Linked DNA regions of Homo sapiens: region 1 is linked to region 2. Evidence: fine-mapped expression QTL. A gene starts in region 2. The other region holds a variant in brackets. All regions are shown on one strand. Distances are from middle to middle.

Region 1 (4,390 bases), 120 kb before region 2:
GCGCCTGTAATCCCTGCTACTCAGGAGGCTGAGCAGGAGAATCACTTGCAGTGAGCTGAGGTCATGCCACTGCACTCCAGCCTGGGCGATAGAGTGAGACTCCATCTCAAAAAAAAAGAAAAAGTTATATTTCCCAGAGAAAATATGGATATTTGAATAAGAAAGGGGTCTAGAATAAAAATGGAATATGCACGAGGCCTATGTGAGTATGGAGAAGGAGAGAGGGACATACACAGTTGCTATCCAAAAGGATCTGGTATTACTGAGCAAGAGGCAGGAGTTTATACTTATGTTTAGTTTGACTCAAACTCTGATGGTTTCAGTATGCTTGACAGAGATGTGAGTGTGTGATACACTCTTATGATTGTTTTTTTTTCCCCCCTAGCAGCATCTGGAATCAAGAGACCCATGGCATCTGAGGTGAGTTTCATACTGATACAATGGTTACTAAAACCTTAATTCTGGGATAGAAGGAACCTGTTTATGACATTTTTATTTTTTCTCTACTTAGGTCTTGGAAGCTAGACAGGATTCTTACATCTCATTGGTAGGCTAGAAATTATGCAACTCATCTTTTATTGTAGTTTATTTTAAATATTAACAATATCTCACATTTATTGAGCATTTTTAATGTACCAAATGCAATATATACCAAAAAGTAAATACTGTACCTAAGTGCCCTTTAAGATATTCTTATTTAATCCTTCAAACAACTACAGTGAGGCAAATACTGTTATCTGTTTTACAGATGAAGAAAGTGAGGATTGCATAGTTACTAAGTGGGATTAGTAAAGCTGGGATTCAAATTCAAACCCAGGCAGTCTGACACTAAAGCTCACTTTCTTTGTTTTGCTGTTATGGCCTCCTGATTGCATACCTTCGATGAATATGAAGAACTTTTAGCCATGCAGAAGCTGTTAGTTTCACAAGTTTCTCTTTTTTGTCCAGAATATCGCCATTTTGCTCAACTTTCTTCCCATGGTGTATTTCCTAACCCTCTTCTCACTTCTTGCCTCTCCCCTGGGTTTTGTGAAAGGGGCCTCAGAATGCAGGCCCTTTTGACCTGGGACTTCAAACTTTCTCTCAGAACATCTTCCAGCATCTGTCAGGTGATATACTGAGAGTTTTCTGGTACTAAGGGCCTTGGCTAAAAGAATAGAACTTGAATATCAGGTCTTAAGATTGGGACATCCAGCCAGTCACGGTTGCTCATGCTTGTAATCCTAACACTTTGGGAGGCCAAGGTGAGAGGATTGCTTGAGGCCAGGAGATCGAGACAGGCCTGTGCAACATAGTGAGACCCTGGTTCTACAAAAAAATAAAACATTAGCCAGGTGCACACCATAGTCCCAGCTACTCGGGATTGCTTGAGCCCAGGAGGTTGAGGCTGCAGTGAGCCATTATCACACCACTGCCCTCTAGCCTGGGTGACAGAGACACCCTGTCTCAAAAAAAAACTGTGATACCCTGTTTCCACTAGTCTCTCAGCCTTCTGGCTTATAAACTTAATGAGTATTGATGTTATGAAGAGTAACTTCATGTCTGTTGCTCTGGCATTTTGGCTCTTGGGGATAACTTTCTAGACTGCTATACTGGTTTACTCCTCCCTTCTTGCCTTTTTTTTTTTTGAGATGAAGTCTTGCTCTGTTGCCCAGTATGGAGTACAGTGGCTCGATCTTGGCTCACTATGTCCTCTGCCTCCCAGGTTCAGGCAGTTCTCCTGCCTCAGCCTCCCAAGCAGCTGGGATTACAGGTGCACGCCACCATGCCCGCCTAATTTTTGTATTTTTAGTAGAGGCAGGGTTTCACCCTGTTGACCAGACTGGTTTTGAACTCCTGACCTCAGGTGATCCACCCGCCTTGGCCTCCCAATGTGCTGGGATTACAGGTGTGAGCCACTGCGCCTGGCCTCTTTTCTTTTTTCTTTTTTTTTTTGAGACAGAGTCACGCTCTGTCGCCCAGGCTGGAGTGCAGTGGCATGATCTTGGCTCACTGCAACCTCTGCCTCCTGGATTCAAGTGATTCTCCCGCCTCAGCCTCCTGAGTAGCTGGGATTAGAGATGCACGCCACCACGCCAGGCAAATTTTTTGTATTTTTAGTTGGAGATGGAGATTTGCCATGTTGCCCAGTCTGGTCTCAAACTCCTAGGCTCAAGTGATCTTCCCCACTTGGCCTTCTGAGTAGCTGAGATTACAGGTGCATGCCACACCACCCAGCTATGTTTCTTTTCTTTTTTTTTTTTTTTGAGACAGAGTCTTGCTCTGTCACCCAGGCTGGAGTGCAGTGGTGCGATCTCGGCTCACTGCAACCTCCACCTCCCAGTTTCAAGCAATTCTCTGCCTCAGCCTCCCGAGTAGCTGGGATTACAGGTGCCTACTACCACGCCTGGGTAATTTTTGTGTTTTTAGTAGAGACAGGGTTTCAACATCTTGGCCAGGCTGGTCTTGAACTCCTGACCTCGTGATCC[A/G]CTTGCCTCCACCTCCCAAAGTGCTAGTATTACAGGTGTGAGCCACCGCACCCGGCCATCGCCGAGCTGTGTTTCTACTACTGTTTAAAAATACTCACCTTTGGTTGGGTGCAGTGCCTCACACCTATAATCCCAGCACTTTGGGAGGCCAAGGCGAGTGGATCACCTGAGGTCAGGAGTTCGAGACTAGCCTGGTCAACATGTTGAAACCCCATCTCTACTAATAATACAAAAAATTAGCTGGGTGTGGTGGTGCATTCCTGTAATCTCAGCTACTCGGGAGGCTGAGGCTGGAGAATCGCTTGAACCCGGGAGGTGGAGGTTGCAGTGAGCCGAGATCGTGGCATTGCACTCCAGCCCAGGCGACACAAGCGAAACTCTGTCTCAAAAAAAAAAAAAAAAGTACTCTTATTTTCTGGCCGGGCATGGTGGCTCACACCTGTAATCCCAGCACTTTGGGAGGCTGAGGCAGGTGGATCACTTGAGGTCAGCAATTTGAGATCAGCCTGGCCAACATGGTGAAACCTCATCTCTACTAAAAATACAAAAATTAGTCAGGTGTGGTGGTGTGCACCTATAATCCCAGCTGCTCGGGAGGCTGAGGCGAGAGAATTGCTTGAACCGAGGAGGTGGAGGTTGCAGTGAGCTGAGATTGTGCCACCGCACTCCAGCCTGGGCAACAAGAGCGAGACTCTGTTTCAAAAAAATAAAGAGTAAAAATACTCACTTTTATTTTCTGTGTCTTCTTTCTGAGGACCAAAGGGAAAATATGTGTCCCTTGGAGTTTTCTTCTGTGATCTTTTAGCCACTTAATTCATTGGGAACCAACATTATAGCTGTATATTTGCATGGGATAGATCTGAAGATTTTGTAAAATGTTTTTAATCTAGAAAGAATATGTTGTTTCAGTTTATTTTGTTTTGATGTACCATTGTGGTAGCTATTTGGTGTCTTACATGGGAATTGTATTATAATCTTGACTCTTCTTCTAGGTGCCTTATGCCTCTGGCATGCCCATCAAGAAAATAGGCCATAGAAGTGTTGATTCCTCAGGAGAGACAACATATAAAAAGGTGTGTCTGGATGAAACCGTCTCATCTTACTCCAGGAGCTCAGCAGCTTACTCTGGGAACTCAGTCTCCTTGAAATTACTCTCCATGTACTGTCCTGTTTCTTGATCTCCTAAGCTTTTGCACATAATACAGCTTAGACTTTAGATTTATTTCTCAAAGGGTAAATTGTCTCCTTTTTGTATATGAATGTTTAAATGAGATTTTTTTTGGCTGGGCACAGTGCCCCAGGCCTGTAATCCCAGCACTTTGGGAAGCCGAGGCAGGCAGATCATTTTAGGCCAGGAGTTCAAGACCAACCTGGCCAACATGATGAAACTCTGTCTCTACTAAAAATACAAAAATTAGCTGGGTGGCACACGCTTGTGGTCCCAGCTACTCGGGATGTTGAGGCACGAGAATCGCTTGAACCTGAGAGGTGGAGGTTGCAGTGAGGTCAAATTGTGCCACTTGGTGGCACTAGCCTTGGTGACAGAACAAGACTCCATCTCAAAAGAAAAAAAAATTAGTGAACAAATCTGGCATTGGTTGCTATTTTACTGAGCTGAAGAAACTGGGTTTCCCTGTTAGGTATAAATATGTAACAAGGCCATGAAAGCCATTCTTATCTTACCACAGGGAACCATGTCTCTCGCAGTCTTTCTGTCTTTTTGTCCATTGCTGGGTATATATCAATAGAGGGCCAGGTCCCAGCCCAGCCTGTTGATACAAATATACACAATAGGTCAGACTTTTTTTTCTCTTCCATTTTTTTTTTAGAGCCAGGGTGTCAATCTGTCACCCAGGCTGGATTGCAGTGGCATGATCATTGGCCGGTAGCAGGAGGCTATTGTAACCTCCGACTCCTGGGCT
Region 2 (4,371 bases):
CTACTTGGGAGGCTGAGGCAGGAGAATGGCGTGAACCTGGGAGGCGGAGCTTGCAGTGAGCCGAGATTGCGCCACTGCACTCCAGCCTAGGCGACAGAGTGAGACTCCATCTCAAAAAAAAAAAAAAAAAAGAAAGAAATTATTTGATGCTAGGTGCTCTGAGGAGCCCTATAGGCTACCATGGAGAGGAGGGAAGTAGAGGGGATCAGCTCTGACTTCATCTCTGCTGGGCTTCTATGCAAGTGCTCACAGAGATCAAGTGAGAGGCACAAAGTCAAACTGGCAGCAAGTTTGCAAAGCCAACTATCTTCTGACAAGGCAGAGGACCCTACCTCTCCCACATCAATGTTTTGTTGATGCCCATCATCCTCACATCCTCCTCCCTCAGCATTTCCATCCCTCTCTTGCCCTCTTCCCCAACACACTTACCAGGATCCCCTCTACTTTGTTCTGCACGGCCTTGCTGTGGGGAAGAGGAGAAAGCTGGAGGTCACACACAAGATTTTCCCTGTCTCTTTATCTGACTGCTAGGGAGGGAAAAGGACTGAAATGCCCAGCAGGTGCTCAAGAATTGCTACCATGGCCAAAAATCTCCCTCTGCTCCCATGCCCTTGCTGAGAGGCAGTTCATCTACAGCCAAAGTGAAGTGCTGCAGGGATCTATACTCAGGTCTTGGACAGGACTTGGAGATGTGATGAGTACTTACGAAATGGTACCTCGGAGCCTCTGAAGAAGGGTGGTAGGTTCCCCAGCCTCAGCACCACCTGGGGGGGCCCTTCCCCCAGTCTTGGGGCTCTTAGCATCAGGCTCATCTTCTGCCATCCCGGCATGAGGGCTAGAATTGAGAGGGACAGGCATAAAGATGTAACTCACACTGGCCTTCCCTTCCCCAGAAGGCCCCAGGGCACTCCTCATCTCTTTACCCAGAAAGGCAGAGAAACAGAAACAAAGCCTCCGAATTTCCCCGGTGGTCTTTTTCTCACCACTTGCCTTCTCCGAAAATTAGAAATTATTCCATTACTTCGCCAGGCCCATATATGCCCAAAGAGATCTTTGCCATCTCCATTCTATCTGCCCCACCTTTCTGAAGTCTCCTAAATCTGGAAAACTGTAAAGGAAGAGATAGGGGGATTGGGAATCCATGTTAGCAAGAAATTTTCATTTCTGCCTCTGACCCCATACTGCCCTCCTCCCCCTCAAAAACAACAATAACAGCCACAAAACAAAGTTCTCTAATTCTCAAAAATACTCCTCACCATTGCATATGCCTGGGAGGTCAGAAAGGATACGAACATATTCTGCCCTTCTAGGCTTGGAAAAAAAACTGGGCCCAAGTTCTCATTACTTAATCTCGCCACGACTTCCCCCGCTGCTCCCCCTCCCCACGTCGCCGGCCCCTACGTCATCTCCCACAACAGCCCATCCTGAGGCGCGCCCCCACCTCCTTCCCTTCCCCCTCCATTCAATCCCCGGTTTCTGCAAAGTGGAGCGGGGGTGGGGCGGGGTAGCGGAACTCATGCGCTGGGCGTCAGAAACCCGGCAGGGGAATGGGGTCCCAGATTCCGGGCACGTGCACATGGGTGAAGAAGCTGTTGAAAATACAGCTACAATCTTTTTCTGCTCTCCTCCCAACTCATCTTGCCCCTCCCTACCTCTGAACAGTCGCCTTCCAACACAAGCAACAATAAAGGTAAGGGAGAAAGAGAAACTACCTCGTAGCCACCTTCACTCCAGCCCAGCCCCAAGGTCCTGGCCCAGCCGGCTCGTGCGTTGCTTTATTTTCCTTTTTCTGAATGGTTGTAACAGCCGCGATCTGCCTAGATACACGGGCGGCCTGCTCTGTCATTGGTCACTGCTGCCACCCGGAGACAGAAGGCGCCGGGCTCGTACCGGCGGCCGCTGAAGTCTGCCTGGTAACAGAATCTGATTGGTCAATAGGGGAGGGAAAATCCAAAGTTGGTCTTATTTGAGTCAAGAGGGGGAAGTCCGGGTTGGGTTTCGGTTAAAACTGGGGTCGGTTGGGACTGCAGGTCCCAAGAGGTTCTTCTCTTAAAGGGACCGCAGGATGAAAGAACGGGCGCTCGGCTCCCTTTGGAACTGTCTTTTCTTTTGCCCTCCCCTTTTGTGTTTCAGTTTAGTCTACGGTCCTCAGAGCTGCCGGAAGAGAAGAATCAATGGATGATAAAATAACTAGACAATGATGGGTAGGAGTGATGGAAGTTCACTGTAAGCTCCTATAACCCCCCATCACCATCACCACATGCCTAATACAACCTGCAGACACACTTACTCGCAACAGACCTGCAATCTGGGCTCTCTTTTCCTTCTTGATGGAGGCCTCAAAACCTCAGCAGTTGTACCCATTAAACTAAAATGCTTTTTCCCTCTTAGTATTTCTTGGTTTCCCGTGTGTACTTTACTTCCAAAGAGTTGCAAATGCATTTGCATCCCCATAGTTCTGCAGTCGGTGAACCCTGGAATTTTGATGGACTCCCACGGGGGTGCTGGATGCCACAGGAACTTTTTACACTCAGGGAACATTGTACTGAATAGGTCATGGGTTCTTAACCCTCTTACTTAAGACATTTTAAGGTTATGAATCAGACAAAAGCAATGGACCCTCTACCATGAAAAATGCACACAGAGACCAAGTTTTGCATCTAATTTCAGAGAGGTCATGGACTCCAGGTTGAAAGCCTCTTACATGGATGTATTTTGTTTTGCGCAGCGGTCATGTTACAACCAAAACTGTATTTGCCATCCTGACATCTAATATGTTCTCCAGGCTCATCATTAATGTGCTTTTGTAAAGAAGACAGTAGTGCTGCCTGAGCTCATCACCATTGCCCTTTACAGCCTACCTTTCCCTATTATCAGCTTCTATGAGTGCTGGGGGAACCCAGGAGATTGTGGAGTTGGGGCAATAAGGATATATTGGCAAGAGGTTTTCTTTTTTCTTTCTTTCTTTCTTTTTTTTTTTTCTTTGAGACGGAGTCTCGCTCTGTTGCCCAGGCTGGAGTGCAATGGCACGATCTTGGCTCACTGCAACCTCCGCCTCCTGGGTTCAAGCGATTCTCCTGCCTCACCCTCCCGAGTAACTGGGTTTACAGACGTGCATCACCACGCCCAGATAATTTTTGTGTTTTTAGTAGAGACGGAGTTTCACCATGTTGGTCAGGCTGGTCTCAAACTCCTGACTTCAGGTGATCCACCTGCCTTGGCCTCCCAAAGTGCTGGGATTACAGGTGTGAGCCACTGCACCTGGCCAGGTTTTCTAATAACAGCTAAAATTTATTTGGTGTTTATTAGGCCAGGCGCGGTGGCTCACGCCTGTAATCCCAAAACTTTGGGAGGCTGAGGTGGGCGGATCACCTAAGGTTGGGAGTTCGAGACCAGCTTGACCAACATGAAGAAACCCCGTCTCTACTAAAAATACAAGATTAGCCGGGCGTGGTGGCGCATGCCTGTAATCCCAGCTACTCGGGAGGCTGAGGCAGGAGAATCACTTGAACTGGGGAGGCGGAGGATTGTGCCATTACACTACAGCCTGGCAACAAGAGCGAAACTCCGTCTCAAACAAAAACAAACAAAAATTTATTTGGTGTTTATTAGGTATCAGACACCATACCAAATGCTAAACACCTCGTGTAATGCTCACAGCAACTCTCTGAAGTAGGTACTGTTACTGTCTCCATTTTACAGATGAGGAAACCAATGTGGAGAGGTGAAGGGACTTGTCCTTAGTCATATATGTAGAAAGTGCTAGAATCAGGATCCAAAGGCAGGCAGTCTGCCTCAAAGCTGATTGTTTTGAGCACTGCCTTAGACTGCATGTATACATATTTGCAGATACTCATAAATAAATATGGGTATAACGGGCTGGACATGATGGCTCATGCCTATAATCTCAATACTTTGGGAGGCAAAGGCAAGAGGATTGCTTGGGGCCAGGAGTTTGAGACCAGCCTGGGCAACAAAGTGAGACTCTGTCTCTCTCTAAACACACACACACACACACACACACACACACACACACACACACACACACACCACACACAGCCAGGTGTGGTGGTACATGCCTGTGGTTCCAGCAACTTGGGAGGCTGAAGCAGGAGGATCACTATTACCCATGAGTTCGAGGCTGCAGTGAGCTATGATTGCACCACTCTGTCGTGCAGCCTGGGTGACAGAGTAAGACCCTGTCTCAAAACAAACAAACAAACAAAAAACAAAAAAAAAGCCGGCTGGTGTGGTGGCTCATGCCTATAATCCCAGCACTTTGGGAGGCTGAGGTGGGCAGATCACCTGAGGTCAGTTTGAGACCAGCCTGACCAACATGGAGAAACCCCGTCTCTACTAAAAACAAAAAAC

Evidence for each region. PIP is the estimated chance that this variant, and not a neighbour inherited with it, causes the effect. A credible set is the group of variants that fine-mapping cannot tell apart.
Region 1: its variant is the best candidate, but not a certain one, in a credible set for the expression of RFX5 in whole blood (INTERVAL, PIP 0.51).

What each region holds. Positions count from the first base shown.
Region 1 is chr1:151,223,860-151,228,249 of GRCh38, forward strand. PIP5K1A (phosphatidylinositol-4-phosphate 5-kinase type 1 alpha) reads left to right here. Exons shown (of 16, transcript NM_001135638.2): 2 at 386-420; 3 at 512-547; 4 at 3,461-3,541. Among named protein-coding and RNA genes, the nearest start is that of PIP5K1A, 28 kb to the left of the region's middle. The variant A/G (reference allele first, on the strand shown) is at 2,469.
Region 2 is chr1:151,345,499-151,349,869 of GRCh38, forward strand. It overlaps RFX5 (regulatory factor X5), which reads right to left and starts at 1,754. Exons shown (of 11, transcript NM_001025603.2): 1 at 1,713-1,754; 2 at 991-1,108; 3 at 707-835; 4 at 430-463. The coding sequence starts at 822. RFX5-AS1 (RFX5 antisense RNA 1) reads left to right here and starts at 1,512. Exons shown (of 2, transcript NR_131972.1): 1 at 1,512-1,690; 2 at 2,134-2,393. RefSeq lists enhancers at 587-676, 1,016-2,215, 1,270-1,852, 1,819-2,168.